Linked DNA regions of Homo sapiens: region 1 is linked to region 2. Evidence: fine-mapped expression QTL. A gene starts in region 2. The other region holds a variant in brackets. All regions are shown on one strand. Distances are from middle to middle.

Region 1 (8,326 bases), 50 kb after region 2:
AGCACAGACAGCGGGGCCAGTGGCTCACACCTGTAATCCCAGCACTTTGGGAGGCTGAGGCGGCCGGATCACCTGAGATCAGGAGTTGGAGACCAGCCTGGCCAACATGGCGAAACCCCGTCTCTACTAAAAATACAAAAAAATTAGCTGGGCACGGTGGCTCACGCCTGTAATCCCAGCTACTCAGGAGGCTAAGGCAGGAGAATCGCTTGAACCTGGGAGGTGGAGGTTGCGGTGAGCTGAGATTGCTCCACTGCACTCCAGCCTGCCAGCCTGGAGTGCAGCGACAAGAGTGAAACTCCGTCTCAAAAAAAAAAAAAAAAAGAAAAAGAAAAAGAAAGAAAGGGGCACAGACTGAAGATGAATGGCTACTCATCTAGAAAGAGGGGAACAGGTCTGTCCCTGGTTCCTTTCCCTTCCTAGCAAATACCCAGAGTACGTGAGGGAGAGAAAGTGAGGTGTCACTCCTTCTCTCTTCTGTCCTTGTATCCCGGAGTCCCAGCAACCATGACAGGTTCCCACCCATGGGTGTCAAAGTGGTTTTCACTCATATTAACAGGGGGTTCTAGGGGGTGGGAGTATTTACTCTTACCCACATATGCCCTATCTCCCCTGCTGTCAGTAGCTTTTAAATTCCCTAGACCTCATTTATGCCACAGATACTAGCATGATCTTTATCCATGGAACGGGAAGCTTGGCTTAATCAGCAGGAATTAATTATGCTCACCTGCACTGTGCCTTTTAACTTCCATTATCACCTGCCTCTGGATCCCTCAGATCCAGTTTTCTTTCTAGGGCTTTGACCTGAAGCTTGAAATTGAGTTTGGGACAAAAATGTTTTTTGGGGGGTTGTGTGGACTCCTTATCATAAGCTGAATGCTAGGGTGAAGATGTGGGATTGAGTCTTCCTCCAACAAAGGAGAGAAAAAGATGTCTTGTGACATGGCCAGATAACTGGTGGCTATAGTTATGCTTCCTGGGATTTGGGTGCATGAGGCTTGGCTTTTGTTAGCTCCCTTGGTCTTACTTTCCCACAGAGGAAACCTCTGGGTTATGGGCACTGTATTTATTCCCATCACCTGGAAGGATTTGCAGGATAATTGCTCAGAACTAGAATATTGATCCAGATTTTTACATTACCCATCCCTCTTGTTGTTTCTGAGCTGCAGCCAGAGATCCCTGGTTGGTTTACAGGAATAAGCAGGGTTAGTTTAAAATGTAGGCAAAACTTAGAAACAACTAATGAGTCTAAACTTTAATGACAAATATATAAGTTTTGAAATATAATTTCTCTCTATATATTTTTTTAATCTTTTTTTTTTTTTTTTTTTTTTGAGATGGAGTTTCACTCTTGTTACCCAGGTTGGAGTGCAATGGCACAATCTTGCCTACCAGGTTCAAGCGATTCTCCTGTCTCAGCCTCCCATGTAGCTGGGATTACAGGCATGCGCTACCATGCCCAGCTAATTTTGTATTTTTAGTAGAGGCAGCATTTTTCCATGTTGGTCAGGCTGGTCTTGAACTCCCGACCTCAGGCAATCCACCCACCTCGGCCTCCCAAAGTGCTGGGATTACAGGTGTGAGCCCCCACGCTCAGCTTCACTCCCTCCCCTCTTTCCATCTCCCCTCTTTCTCCCCTCACCTCCCCTTCCCTCCCCTCCCCTCTCCTCTCCTCTCCTTCTTCCTTACAGAGTATTGCTCTGTTACCCAGGCTGGAGTGCAGTGGCACAATTTTGGCTCACCACAACCTCCACCTCCTCGGTTCAAGAGATTCTCGTTCCTCAGCCTCCCGAGTAGCTGGGACTACAGGCGCACACCACCACACCTGGCTAATTTTTAATATTTTCAGTAGAGACGGGGTTTCACCATGTTGGCCAGGCTGGTCTTGAACTCCTGATACCAGGTGATCCACCCACTTTGGCCTCCCAAAGTGGTGGGTTTACAGGCATGAGCCACCATGCCCAGCCTTCTAGTCCTCATTTCTGTTAAAAACAAATCAAGTTAGAACTCAGTTGTTTGCAAAATCGACTTTAATCTTATACTTGGCCTGATTATTTGCATAAAGTGCAGCAAAAATAATTATTTCTACATAGGCCTTTTAGATTGACTTTGATGGAACTCTGTTCCACAAGGAATTTCAGATAAGACCTTTTAAAGCTCAGGCCAGCCATGAGTTTGTATCCTCAAATACCTGTGAGTTGGGTAAACTCCTCTCTTCTTGAGGTCCCAAGAGCATGTGTTTTCTGGGCCTGTTGGAAAGTGACATTCTTTACTCATTGCAGGTTAGGAACCCTGTATGGAGACTGTGTAGACAAGGGCATGAAGCCAGTTTTACCAAAGGACTTTTATTGGCTCTGCAAGTTGAGATTGACTCCTTAAAGGGAAGCATACCATTCCAGTCAAAGCCTTGGTAAAACAACCAGTTTCTCCAATTGCATCCTGTTGCAAAAGAAAATGGATTCTTACTGCACTGATACAAACAACTATATTGTCATAAGTTATGAATACTCATAGATAGTTTCTAAATTCTAGAGGAACCAGGCAGAGAGAAACAAACATGCTCCAAATTTTGTTCACAGGAGTATACCCTACTCAATTTTTTTTTTTTTTGAGACGGAGTCTCGCTTTGTGGCCCAGGTGGGAGTGCAGTGGCGTGATCTCAGCTCACTGCAAGCTCCGCCTCCCGGGTTCATGCCATTCTCCTGCCTCAGCCTCCCGAGTAGCTGGGACTACAGGCGCCTGCCACCACACCCTGATAATTTTTTGTATTTTTAGTAGAGACACGGTTTCACCGTGTTAGCCAGGATGGTCTCGATCTCCTGACCTCGTGATCCACCCGCCTTGGCCTCCCAAAGTGCTGGGACTACAGGCGTGAGCCACCGCGCCTGGCCACCCTACTCAATTATTAAAGGCTGTAAATAATTCCTAATAATTTTCCTCGACTCTGAAAAATGAAACAAGGATCAGCAATGTTCCAAGCAAAAGTCCAGAAGATTACTTCAGTTTTCTATTAGTTCAGTCCATTCAGTTAACTCTTGTTTTGCTTGATATTCATGAACATTTCAGCTCTTCATGAGTCCTGTACATTTTTCCTGTGTGCCAATGTCACAATCTCCAAAGTTATCAGAAACTGATATTTGAGCATACTTGTCAGAGTCCTATAGCTTATTTTTTTTTTTAATTTTGCTTTAAGTTCTTGGATACATGTGCAGAACATGCAGGTTTGTTACATAGGTATACATGTGCCATGGTGGTTTGCTACACCTATCAACCTGTCATCTAGGTTTTTTGTTTTTTGTTGTGTGTGTGTGTGTGTGTGTGTGTGTGTGAGAGAGAGAGAGAGAGAGAGACGGAATTTCGCTCTTGTTGCCCATGCTGGAGTGCAATGGCATGTGATCTTGGCTCACCACAAGCTCCACCTCCCGGGTTCAAGTGATTCTCCTGCCTCAGCCTCCCAAGTAGCTGGGATTCCAGGCATGTGCCACCATACCCGGCTAATTTTGTACTTTTAGTAGAGACGGGGTTTCTCCATGTTGGTCAGCCTGGTCATGAACTCCTGACCTCAGGTGATCTGCTCGCCTCGGCCCCCCAAAGTGCAGGGATTACAGGCGTGAGCCACCGTACCCAGCCT[A/G]TCATCTAGGTTTTAAGCCCCACATGCATTAGGTATTTGTCCTAATGCTCTCCCTCCCCTTGTCCCCCACTCCCTGACAGGCCTTAGTGTGTGATGTTCCCCTCCCTGTGTCCATGTGTTCTCATTGTTCAACTCTCACTTATGAGTAAGAACATGTGGTGTTTGGTTTTCTGTTCCTGTGTTAGTTTGCTGACAATGATGGTTTCCAGCTTCATCCATGTCCCTGGAGAGGACATGAACCCATTCTTTTTATGGCTGCAGAGTCCTGTAGCTTATGAAAAGGATCAAAACAAGACAACAATTGTCTGTGAATAACAAAATGTCCAGGGTAGTTACAGTTAGAAACACAATTGACAAAGAACTTTGGTTATCTCTGTGGTTTACAATAACTTAACAACCTTAATTATGACTGATAGCATATACTTTAGACATTAGAATTTTAGAAATCCCACACAATTTTGGAACATACATTAGTATTATTCACCAGAATATAACCTAAAGAAGATTGGACACCATTTTGGCAATCCCATGTAACTAAACTTGTCAAATAATTCTGTTTACCTCTCTTTTGGATACTGCAGGGGCCCTCTGTAGCATCCAAAAGCCAGCCATCAGGAAAGGCAATTTTGTAATGGAAGTTTAATTTCTGGAAGCCTGTTAAATATGTTAGAGGTTTAAAACACTTGATGTTATGAAATAGAATTCCAAATTACCACAAGTTATTTATTTTGCTAAAATGACTCAGAAATTTAAAAGAGCAAAAACCTTTTATAACCCTTTACAAATTTTGTTAAAGAGCAGATTAGTGCCTTATGAGTGTCTTGTTGTGCTTTTATTTCAATGCTCAACTTACAGAAAAACCATATAACACCCTTTTGAATTTAGTCAATATGTTCATACTTCACACATAGAATTTCTGGGTTTTTTTGTTTCGTTTTGTTTTGTTTTGTTTTGTTTGGAGACAGTCTCACTCTGTCGCCCAGGCTGGAGTGCGGTGGTGTGATCTCAGCTCACTGCAACCTCCACCTTCTGGGTTCAAGCAATCCTCCCACCTCAGCCTCTCGAGTAGCTGGGATTACAGGCGTGCACCACCACACCCGGATAATTTTTGTATTTTAGTAGAGATGGGGTTTTGCCATGTTGGCCAGACTGGTCTCGAACTCCTGACCTCAGGTGATCTGCCTGCCTCAGTCTCCCAAATTGCTGGGATTACAGGCATGAGCCACTGCACCCAGCCAATTTTAATTTTTATTAATTAATTATTATTATTATTATTATTTTGAGACAGAGTCTCATTATGTTGACCAGGCTGTTCTCAAACTCCTGGGCTCAAGTGATCCTCCTGCCTCAACCTCCCAAAGTGCTGGGATTGTAGGCATGAGCCACTGTGCCTAGTCTTCATTACTTCTTGAAGCATGGTTTCCTTAGTTATTTGAACATATTTATAATAAGTGCTTTGAAATCTTTTCCATTAAATCAAATGTCTGGGCTCTCTCACGGGCAGTTTTTGTTGCCTACTTTTTTGCTCCTGTGTATATGTCACGCTTTCTTTTTTCTTTGCAAATCTTAATAATTTTTTTGGCCTAAAACTGGATATGTAAAATAATATATTAGGCTGGGCATGGTGGCTCACACCTGTAATCCCAGCACTTTGGGAGGCCACGGTGGACAGATCACCTGAGGTCAGGAGTTAAAAACCAGCCTGGCCAACAAGGGGAAACCTCATCTCTACTAAAAATACAAAAATTATCCAGGCGTGGTGGCGCACCTGTAATCCCAGCTACTCGGGAAGCTGAGGCAAGAGAATCACTGAAATCCAGGAGGCTGAGGTTGCAGTGAGCTGAGATTGCATCACTGCACTCCAACTTGGGCAACAGAGTGAGACTTCATCTCAAAATAATGATAATAATATATTAGCAACTCTAATTCCTCTTTCCTCTCTGTAGGGCTTGTTTCTGTTGTTTTTTGCTTGTTTGCTTAGTGACTTGACTAGATTATTTTAGTGAAGTCTATTTCCCCCATATTGTGAAGTCTTTGGTGTCATTCTTCAGAAGATGTAGCCTTGAGTGTACCTGTAGTCACAGTAAGATAATAGTGGTTTTAGCAGGGCTCTCTTTGTCTCTTTCCCCACACCCAGCTGTTAAGCTCCACTAACTGCAAGCTGATTGCTCTATTATTTTTGACAATGTCCTGAGGCATAAATTCCTCCACAGTCTGATTCAATTAATTTCTGGCAGGGATGGTTTTTGAGGCAAGTCTTTGAGTTTTGTTCTGACCTCAAGAGTGCTCTTCTTAGGATCTTTCCCCTATTTTATATCTTTAAATATAAAAGGCACTGGCTTTTAATATTTAACTTAACCACTCAATCAGTTAAGTTCCCTCTGGTGATCTAGCTGGCTTATGGCTTAACTTGTTGCTCTTAAGAGAAACTAGAGTTGACCCTTGAAGAACCAGTGTCTCTAAGGATTAGAGACACTGACCCCTCTGCAGAGTCAAAACCGCATGTATACTTTTTTATTCCCTCTCCCCCGCCCCGCAAAAAAAAAAAAAAAAAAAAAAAGCAGAATGAAAAAAACAAAGAACTGGGTGCGGTGGCTCCTGCTTGTAATCCCAGCACTTTGGGAGGGCAAGGTGGGTGGATCACGAGGTCAGGAGTTCCAGACCAGCCTGGCCAACATAGTGAAACCCTGTCTCTACTAAAAATACAAAAATTAGCCAGGCATGGTGGCGCATGCCTGTAGTCCCACTTACTCGGGAGGCTGAAGCACGAGAATTGCTTGAACCCAGGAGGCAGAGGTTGTGGTGAGCTGAGATCACGCCACTGCACTCTAGCCTGGGCAACAGAGTGAGACCCCTTTTCAAAAAAAAAAAAAGCAAACAAAACACAAACAAACAAAGAAAAAGGCTGTGCGTGGTGGCCCGTGCCTATAATCCCAGCACTTTGGGAGGCTGAGGCAGGTGCACTGCCTGATCTCAGGAGTTTGAGTCCAGCCTGGGCAACAAGGCACGACTCCGTCTCTATGAAAATACAAAATTAGCTCAGCATGGTGGCATGCACCTGTGGTCCCAACTACTCAGGAGACTGAGGCAGGAAGATTGCTTGAGCCAAGGAGGTCAAGGCTGCAGTGAGCCATGTTTCCATTGCTGCACTCCAGCCTGGGTGACAGAGTGAGACCCTGTCTCTCTTTTTTTTTTTTTTTTTGAGATGGCGTTTCACTCTTATTGCCCAGGCTAGAGTGCAATGGCACGATCTTGGGTCACCACAACCTCGGCCTCCCGGGTTCAAGTGATTCTCCTGCCTCAGCCTCCCAAGTAGCTGGAATTAGAGGCATGCGTCACAATGCCTGGCTAATTTTGTACTTTTAATAGAGGCAGGGTTTCTCCGTGTTGGTCAGGCTGGTCTTAAACTCCTGACCTCAGGTGATCTACCCGCCTCAGCTTCCCAAAGTGCTGGGATTACAGGTGTGAGCCACCGCGCCCGGTGAGACCCTATCTCAATTTTAAAAAAGCAAAGAAAAAGAAAAAAAATTTTTGACTCCCCAAAAACTTAACTACTAATAGCTTCCTATTGACTGGAAGCCTTACGAATTACATAGTAGAAGACTAACATGTATTTTTTATGTTTTATATATATACTATATTGTTAAAATTAAGTAAGCTAGAGAAAAGAAAATGCTATTAAGAAAATCATGGGGTAGGCATGGTAGTTCATGCCTGTAATCCCAACACTTTGGGAGGTCAAGGTTGGAGGATCGCTCAAGCCCAGGAGTTAGAGACCAGCCTAGGCAACATAGCAAGACCCCATCTCTATAAATAATTTAAAAATTTGCCAGGCATGGTGTCATGCGCCTGTAGTCCCAGCTACTCTGAAGGCTGAAGCAGGAGGACCACTTGAGTCCAGGAGTTCAAGGCTGCAGTAGGATATGTTGGTGCCACCAAGCTCCAGCCTGTGTGACAGATAAAATCATAAGGGCTGGGCGTGGTGGTACTGTGGCAGGCCAGGTCTTACTAATGCAGGCCTCCATAGCAACTGTTTCAGTACTGATTGAGTAGTTAAGTTAAATATTAAAAGCCAGTGCCTTTATACAAAGGCTGGAACGTAAGAAAAGCCCACCAAGAGTTTTGCCTAGGCCTTTCCTGGGCCTTAAAGCATGACAAAATAACGAAGGAATTCTTAACAAGACCCATTTAGGATTCAATAAATTTTACTGTGGGTCTGAAGAAACTCTCCAGGCCTCCACAAACAAGTTTACTGGGGGTCTGAAGGAACTCCCCAAACCTCCATGATTTAGCAGGAAACAAGATAAGGGTAATCACCCCAGCACCTGGACCCATTTAGATTAAGTAAATTTACTGAGGCTCCAGAGGAAGGTCTTCAGGACTCAGACCTTAGTTATAGATTAAAAGAAGTTAACCAGCTCGGCACAGTGGCTCATGCCTGTAATCCCAGCACTTTGGGAGGCTGAGATGGGCGAATCATTTGAGGTCAGGAGTTCGAGACCAGCCTGACCAACATGGCAAAACCCCGTCTCTACTAAAAATACAAAACAAATTAGCTGGGCATGGTGGCACATGCCTGTAGTCCCAGCTGCTCGGGAGGCTGAGGCAGGAGAATTCCTTGAACCCAGGAGGTGGAGGTTGCAGTGAGCCAAGATCGTGCCACTGCACTCCAGCCTGGGCGACAGAGTGAAACTG
Region 2 (8,326 bases):
CTGGTAAATGAATGAACCTGTCCTCAAAGTCCATCCTCCAGGATGGAAGCCATCGTCCACGCTGGACTGAGTTGGCCTGGAGATAGGGATGACAATTATAACTTGACCACTTCTGGGCCAGGCACAGTGGCGCACACCTGTAATCCCAGCACTTTGGGAGGCTGAGGCGGGCAGATCACTTGAGGTCAGGAGTTCCAGACCAGCCTGGCCAACATGATGAAACCCCATCTGTACTAAAAATACAAAAATTAGCTGGGTGTGGTGGTGCACGCTTGTAACCCCAGCTACTCAGGTGGCTGAGGCAGGAGAATTGCTTGAACCGGGGAGGTGGCGGTTGCAGCGAGCAGAGATTGCGCCACTGCATTCCAGCCTGGGCGACAGAGTGAGACTCTGCCTCAAAAAAAAAAAAAAAAAAAAAAAAGGCCAGGTATGGCCAACTCACGCCTGTAATCCCAGCACTTTGGGAGGCCAAGGCAGGTGGATCACCTGAGGTCAGGGATTGACCACCTGCCTAGCCAACATGGTGAGACCAGCCTGGCCAACATGGTGAAACTTGGTCTCTACTGAAAATAAAAAATTAGCTGGGCGTAGTGGCGGGCGCCTGTAACCCCAGCTACCCGGGAGGCTGAGGCAGGAGAATCACCTGAACCCGGAAGGCGGAGGTTGCAGTGAGCCAAGATCATGCCATTGCATTCCAGCCTGGGTAACAAGAGAGAAATTCCGTCTCAAAAAAAAATTAAAAGAAACCATAAATAAGTTGACCACTCTGGAGTCCTCACAATTTGCCTCATACTCTTCTTGGGGCCTCACACACATTACCTCATTTAATGATATTCTCAGTACAGCCACCCACAATAGGTTTTATATTATCCTGTTGCCCAGGCTGGAGCGCAGTGGCGTGATCTCGGCTCACTGCAACCTCCGTCTCCTGGGTTCAAGCAATTCTCCTGCCTCAGCCTCCAGAGTAGCTGGGATTCCACGCCCAGCTAGTTTTTTTATTTTTAGTAGAGACAGGGTTTCTCCATGTTGGCCAGGCTGGTCTTGAACTCCTGACCTCAGGTGATCCACCTGCCTTGGCTTCCCAAAGTTCTGGGATTACAGGCATGGGCCACTGCGCCCGGCCATATTATTCTAATTTTACAGAAGAGGAAACCGAGGCTCAGAGAGGGATATACCTTACTCGAGGTCGCACAGCTTGTAAGCAGCAGTCAAGATTCGAATCCAGGCCCAGCTGACCCCAGATGCTCAATCTTTCCCTCTGCCATACTGCTAGACCTGGCCCTGAAGAGGCCTATGGCCCGCCAGCTGGTTACATAAACCACCGCACAAGGTCTCACGTGCTAAGTGCTAAATGTGTCATGTCTGACTCCACCCTTTCCCTCACTTCCACATCCAGCAGTCATCAAGTGTGGCTGAAATCGCCGCCGAGCTTGGGAATGGCTCTGGAAATCTTCCCTTCGATAGCTCAGGTCCTTGTTAACACTCACGTGGTCCAAGGTTATGGCCTCCCAGCTATCCCCTGGCCTCCAGGCTTACCTTCCTCCATCCAGCCCTCCTCCCCCTGAGGGTCAACGTCCCTAACCACAGTTCAGGACTATCACTCCTGGGCTCAAAACCTCCACTGGTCCCCACTGACTCTAGAAGAAAGTTCAAATTCTTCTACCAGGCAGTCAAGGGCTCTGGTCTAGCTCCAATCTTCCTTTTTAATCTTGCCTTGTGTTATCCTCTTCAAACACACAGTACTCAGCGTGAGCCAGGCGTGATGGCAGATACCCATAGTCCCAGCTACTCAGGAGGCTGCAGCTAGAGGATTGCTTGAGCCCAGGAGTTTGAGTCCAGCCTGGGCAATATATTGAGACCCAGTTTCTAAACAAATGAACAAAACCCCAGACACCCAGTGTGCTCTCCAGCTTCTACATGACCCACACCTTCATGCCTTTGCCTGTGCTGGCTTGTTCTGCCAGAAATGCTCTTTCCCCAAGCTTGTCAAAATCCCTCCAAAACGTTAAGATCTGACTCCAAGGCCACCTCCTTCTTGGCCCTCCCTGATCCACAGGATGAGAACGATCATTCCTTCCTCTGACTCATCAACCTTTTGTGCTCCTATGGCCAGCATCCACCTTACACAGCAGCAGAGACTCAGGTTCTCATGCCCTCAGCTGGGGATCCCTGAGCATCCGGGTCTTCTGAAATGGACTGCTGCAAATGCTAAGTTCTGCAGCAACTGGGGAGAAGAGTGTTGGAGGGAGTTGCACAGAAAGGACCATCCACTGAATGTTCCAGAAGGCAGCAGAGTACAGTAGTTAAGAGCACAAGATCTTCAACCTGATTGCCCGGGTTCAAATACAGCTTCACCTCTTACTAGCTAAGTGACTTGGGGCAGATTACTTAACTTCTCTGGACCTCAGCTGCCTCACTTGAAAAAGGGAGGTAGAGTGCCTACTTCAGGGTGTTGTTCTGAGGACAGAGTGGCCACATATAAGTGCCCTGAGGACAGGCTGGTGCACGGTCAGTGCTAAGCAAGTGTGTGCTGCCATTATTATCAGCGAAGCCCCAAGAAGGGAATTCCCAGTCCTGGGGGAGGGCTGACAGGGGCTGGCATAGGCACAGCCCCCAGACTATAGCCACTTTCCGGGTCCGTTTCCCATGTGCTTTTGGAAGATACGCAGGGCAGACAATCAGCCCCATTCTGCAGATGAGGAACTGAGCTTCCTTCAGATCAAGTGCCAGTGAGGGAATGGTAAAGACGCCAGAGCTCCTCAGCCCTGGACCATGGCTCCTTTCTCTTCACCAGACCGTCACTGTGCACCTGTTGAGCAGGCTCCCACGGCAGCCACCCCTTCCCAGCCCCCCATGCCGGAGGGCCTGTCCGCAGCACCCTCCCTTCCCCCACGTACACACATCCTTCCAGTGGGGCCGGGCACAGTAGACAGTGGTGTGCAGGCTTGGAATGCACTTGCACACACACCCCTAGAAGGGCCCAGTCCCCAAAGGTGAGGAAAACCTGTTCTGAGGAATCTGCCTAGTGAGCGAATTCTGTTCTGAGGCCCTTCCACCGTCGCAGGAGTGGGGCCCAGTGTGCGTCAGAGATACCCACAAGGGGGGCAGAGAGAGGGAGAGGGTGAAGCAGGAGGAGGCTGAAAACTTCACGTTTCTTTTTTCCATTTTAGTGACAAGAGTCACACCCAGCCTTTACATAAACATGGCCAAGGAGCCTCTCTGTCTAAGCTTACTTCCCTTGTGGCCGCCCAGCCTCTCCTCCGGGTGACCCTGACACGCTGGGCAGGCTCATGAGGGGCAAACATACAGACCCTGCAAAGATTAGCTGGGCCATCTGACAACACCCATGCCTCCCGCCGGCCTCCATGCGCTACCCTGCATTTATCTCCCGCCTTCCTCATACCAAATCCCCTCCGCAGCCCCACCGCCACTTAAGCACACAGACGGCAGGCACGCACACACAGCCTGCTTGCGGCTGGCCTCTTGGGTCTGAGGCCCACACTGCCCTTGTCACGCCACCTCCCTCCCCACATGTGTTTTCTGACCAGTTTGCCTCCCAGCTCAGCAGCCCAGACAGGCTCCTACAAACAACGTCACAAAAGAATCCTGTGGAGAATGTTGCAAACACACAACCTTCCCCTCGCTTGGCTGCCCATGATCCCATAAACACAACTGGCGCATTCCACCTCGAGCCCCTCACACCAGTGCCAACTGACCCACAGGCCCCTGAGACATACCCCGGGGTTCCTCGCTCCTCTCATGATCTTTGGGATCTGAGTTCTAGACGCGCAGCCCCCATGCAACGCGCTCATCACAGACACGCAAACCCATCCATCGCCCTCTTCACCACTGGACCACACCTCAGCAGGGCCACAGAAATGGGACCCAGACGTGACGCCTTCTGACTCAAAGGCCCACAACCGCCCCCTCCAAAAGGGCACATACACTGCATCCTGGCACCCTCCGCAACACATACAGCATGCCAGCTCTGCAGAAAACAGTTCATAAACAGGTCATAGGTGCAGCACAAGACACACATGCGAGAAAACACATGCTGTAGAAAACATACAGCCCCACATCGAACAAACTCTGCACCCAGCATGCTGTGCCCTGCTCAGAATACCCATCTGTCACCCAAAGCCACAGGGCTCGTCTTGTAACTCTGCCCCACAACACTGGACACCCTTCCTGGCTTTCTATCTCCATGGCCCAGGGAGGGCCCTACCCAGACCCCTGGCTGCCAGCAAACGGTGGTGCCCAGGAGAGGTTTACCTTGCCCCACCACACAGCACAAGACACACGATCTCCAAGACTCACAGCCACAACCCTGCCCCGACGGCGCGGCGGTTCCGGGGCCCCAGCTCGCCCTGCGCACCCCGCACACCCCAACTCTGGGGCGCTCGGCGGCCCACCCCTCCCCCTCTCTGCCTGGCTCCTACGCCATCACCCTCCCAGCAGCTTGCAGCGCTTGCCCGGGCTCACACCCGCCCCACCCCACCCCCAATCTGCCCCACGGGGGGAGGGGGCCATTAGGCTGCAGAATTAACCCTTCAAAGAGGGAGTGAGCACCTCCCCTTCCACGGCCCCAGGCGATCGCGTCCCACGGCCGCCCCTCGCTCGGACGCCATACCAGGGCCCCCTTAGTCGCCCCCCAGCGTCGTGCGCGCCCGGGGGCGGGGCCAGGCTCAGCCCCCGACCCCTGCGCCCCCAGGTCAACCCCAAAGGAGAGCGGTCTGGGCGCGGGGCGCGGTCGGGGCTCCCGCAGCGCCGGGCAGCGGAGAGGGGGCCTGGCAGTTGGCTCCGGTCCGCCCTGGCCCTGCCCAGTTCGCCCCAGGGCCCACCTGACTGCGATGGCGCCGCGTCCGCCAGGCCCGGCTCATCACCGTGGCCGCCCCCGGCCGCTCCGGTTTTGCCCGCCTCCAGCTCCGGCTCCGGCTCCAGCTCCGGCCCTGGCCCCCCCAGCGCCTGGCCCCGGCCCGGCCCCGCTGCCGCCGCCGCCGCCGCCGCTGACATCATCGGCTCCCCCCGCCCCGGTCCTACCCCCACCCCCACCCCCGGAAACAGTCCCCCCCCAGCGCCGCCGCCGCCGCCGCCGAGAGGAGGCCGGCGCAGCGCAGCCGACACCGACACAAAGCTCCGAGCGCCCGACGGCCTTCCCCAGGACTGACCCCCGCGGCATGACACTGCGCCGCGCTGGGCCACCGGGCGGGTGGACACCGAGCGGGGCGCGGGCCGGGCTGCAGCATCCCGGCAGGGGCGCAAGACCACCGACCCCCAGGGAAAGGGCTCCCTCCGCCCTTCCTCCTGCACGCCCTTCACTCAGCGGTGCACACTGCCTGAAAGCATAACACACAGGCTCTCAGGGTGCAGACATGACATGGCAGACTCATAATCAGGCCCGGTGGGACTCACAGACCCAGGGTCGGCACACTCAAAGAGGGCCAGCCCTGGACACACACACACACCCTCTCCAGGAATGCGCAGGAAAGCTCAGCAGGCCGCGGAAAAAGAAGGCCCTGGCCCTGCATACGGGGCACACACGAACGACCACCAGCGCAAATGAACACATGAAGCTGGCTGGGTACTTTGTCCCCACCAGCAGATAGATCCACATCTGTATACTTGAACATAAATGCAGAGGCCTTGGTGTCGGCCTCTGGGGACAGCATCAACAAAACACCAGGTGGAAGCACACACAGAAAAAACACATTCCTGAAACTCCACAGGGACAATCCCAAGAACTCCTCCCTGGTGCTGGAAAATTAAAAACTAAGGAGATGGAGGAGCCAGGGTTCACAGCTCCTTGCCTTAAAACCTCTCTGAGGCTGGGCGCGGTGGCTCACGCCTGTAATCCCAGCACTTTGGGAGGCCGAGGTGGGCGGATCACGAGGTCAGGAGATCGAGACCATCCTGGCTAACACGGTGAAACCCTGTCTCTACTAAAAATACAAAAAAATTAGCCGGGCGTGGTGGCGGGCGCCTGTGGTCCCAGCTACTCGGGAGGCTGAGGCAGGAGAATGGCGTGAACCTGGGAGGCGGAGCTTGCAGTGAGCCGAGATCTCGCCACTGCACTCCAGCCTGGGCGACAGAGACAGACTCCGTCTCAAAAAAAAAACAACAACAAAAAAACCTCTCTGAAACCATGCAAGATATAAATAAACAAATTAATGTAAAGCCACAGAGCTAGCCATAAAAAGAATAAAAGAATCAGACAAACTTTGGAGTCATGGAGACATAAATAGAAAAGAAGCAGAGTTGGGCTGGGCACGGTGGCTCATGCCTGTAATTCCACCACTTTGGGAGGCGGGGGGTGGTGGGGTGGATCACTTGAGGTAAGGAGTTCAAGACCAGCATGGCCAACATGGAGAAACCCCATCTCTACGAAAAATAAAAAATTAGCGGGGTGTGGTGGCACATGCCTGTAATCCCAGGTACTTGGGAGGATGAGGTAGGAGAATTGCTTGAACCCAGGAGGTGGAGGTTGCGGTGAGCCGAGATTGCACGCACCACTGCACTCCAGCCTGGGCAAGAAGAGCAAAACTCCGTCCCAAAAAAAAAAAAAAAAATTAGCCAGGTGTAGTGGCACATTCTTGTAATCCCAGCTACTTGGGAGGCTGAGGCAGGAGAATCGCTTGAATCTGGGAGGTGGAGGTTGCAGTGAGATGAGATCACACCATTGCACTCCAGCCTGGATAACAAGAGTGGAAACTTCGTCGCAAACAAAAAAAGAAAGAAAGAAAGAAAAGAAGCAGAGTTGGACTCAGCGGGAAAATAGGCGTGCTACCACCTCAGGAGAGTTCCAGGGAAGAACCCCACCCCCACTCCAACCATGTCACAATGGCTGGAGCTCTGAGGGGCCCAGGCTCCCTGAGCCAGGAGGAGAGGAGAAAGTCCAAGGAAAGATGGTGAGTGTGGGGGCCAGGGGCCTAGTACTCCCTCCCTATAGCTCCTGGTTGCTCCATTTCCCCTCCTTTCCTAAAACTTAGCTGTCTCAGAGATACCCACAAATAGAATTCATAATGGTGTACCCAGATGTCTCTGGAACCTGTGGCATCATACAGATGCATAGCATCTGAGGCTTCCTCCCCTTCCTCAATCCGAGAGAGCATCCTGGGTCCTTTTTCTCCTCCCAGGAACAACTTACCCAGGGAAACGATGCTCCAGGACTGCTCACTCCTTGCTTCCTGCTCCAGGCCCACATTATAACATCTCACTCATCTTTTAGGCCCTTTCTAGCTCCGAAGAGTTCCTCAGCAAGATAGCCCAACACTGTACAGTCCCACAGGGTCCCAGACCCCATCCTGGCATCTGCCCTGCCCCAGGTCGCCTGGGCTGCGGCTGCTGTCTACCCTGAGCTCCTTTCTCCCTAACAGGCTGGCAGTCACCCCTACTTGAACCCGCCTGACTCCACACACCCATCGCCGCCCTCCGCTCCACCCAGCCTCCGCTGGCACCAGTGCTGCCAGCCCTCTGATGCCACCAATGGCCTGCTGGTGGCCCTGCTGGGTGGGGGCCTGCCTGCTGGCTTCGTGGGCCCCCTTTCTCATATGGCTTACCAGGCTTCCAACCTGCCCTCGCTGGAGCTGCTCATCTGTCGATGCCTCTTCCACCTCCCTATTGCCCTGCTACTTAAACTGCGTGGCGACCCCCTTCTGGGACCTCCTGACATCCGAGGCCGGGCCTACTTCTATGCCCTGCTCAACGTCCTCAGCATTGGATGTGCCTACAGTGCGGTTCAGGTGGTGCCCGCTGGCAACGCTGCCACTGTTCGCAAAGGTTCTTCCACCGTCTGCTCCGCCGTCCTCACCCTCTGCCTTGAGAGCCAGGGTCTCAGTGGCTACGACTGGTGTGGACTGTTGGGCAGCATCCTAGGACTAATCATCATTGTGGGACCTGGACTCTGGACACTACAGGAGGGGATCACGGGTGTCTACACCGCCCTGGGCTATGGGCAGGCTTTCGTGGGAGGACTGGCGCTGTCCCTGGGGCTTCTGGTCTATCGTTCTCTGCACTTTCCCTCCTGCCTCCCAACAGTGGCCTTCCTATCTGGCTTGGTGGGGCTGCTGGGCTCTGTGCCAGGCCTCTTTGTGCTGCAGCCCCCCGTGTTGCCCAGTGATCTCCCGAGTTGGAGTTGTGTGGGGGCAGTGGGGATCCTCGCCTTGGTCTCCTTCACATGTGTGAGCTATGCGGTCACCAAGGCCCACCCTGCCCTGGTGTGCGCTGTCCTGCATTCCGAGGTGGTGGTGGCCCTTATACTGCAGTATTATATGCTCCATGAGACTGTGGCACCTTCTGACATCGTGGGGGCAGGGGTTGTGCTGGGCAG

What was found. PIP is the estimated chance that this variant, and not a neighbour inherited with it, causes the effect.
Region 1: its variant is fine-mapped to the expression of ZBTB4 in whole blood (TOPMed, PIP 0.99).

Annotation. Positions count from the first base shown.
Region 1 is chr17:7,524,708-7,533,033 of GRCh38, forward strand. No RefSeq gene overlaps it. Among named protein-coding and RNA genes, the nearest start is that of TNFSF12, 20 kb to the right of the region's middle. The variant A/G (reference allele first, on the strand shown) is at 3,632.
Region 2 is chr17:7,474,615-7,482,940 of GRCh38, forward strand. ZBTB4 (zinc finger and BTB domain containing 4) reads right to left here and starts at 5,017. Exons shown (of 4, transcript NM_001128833.2): 1 at 4,842-5,017. SLC35G6 (solute carrier family 35 member G6) reads left to right here and starts at 6,832. Exons shown (of 2, transcript NM_001102614.2): 1 at 6,832-6,905; 2 at 7,374-8,326. The coding sequence starts at 6,903. RefSeq lists silencers at 4,324-4,373, 4,634-5,093, 5,114-5,373.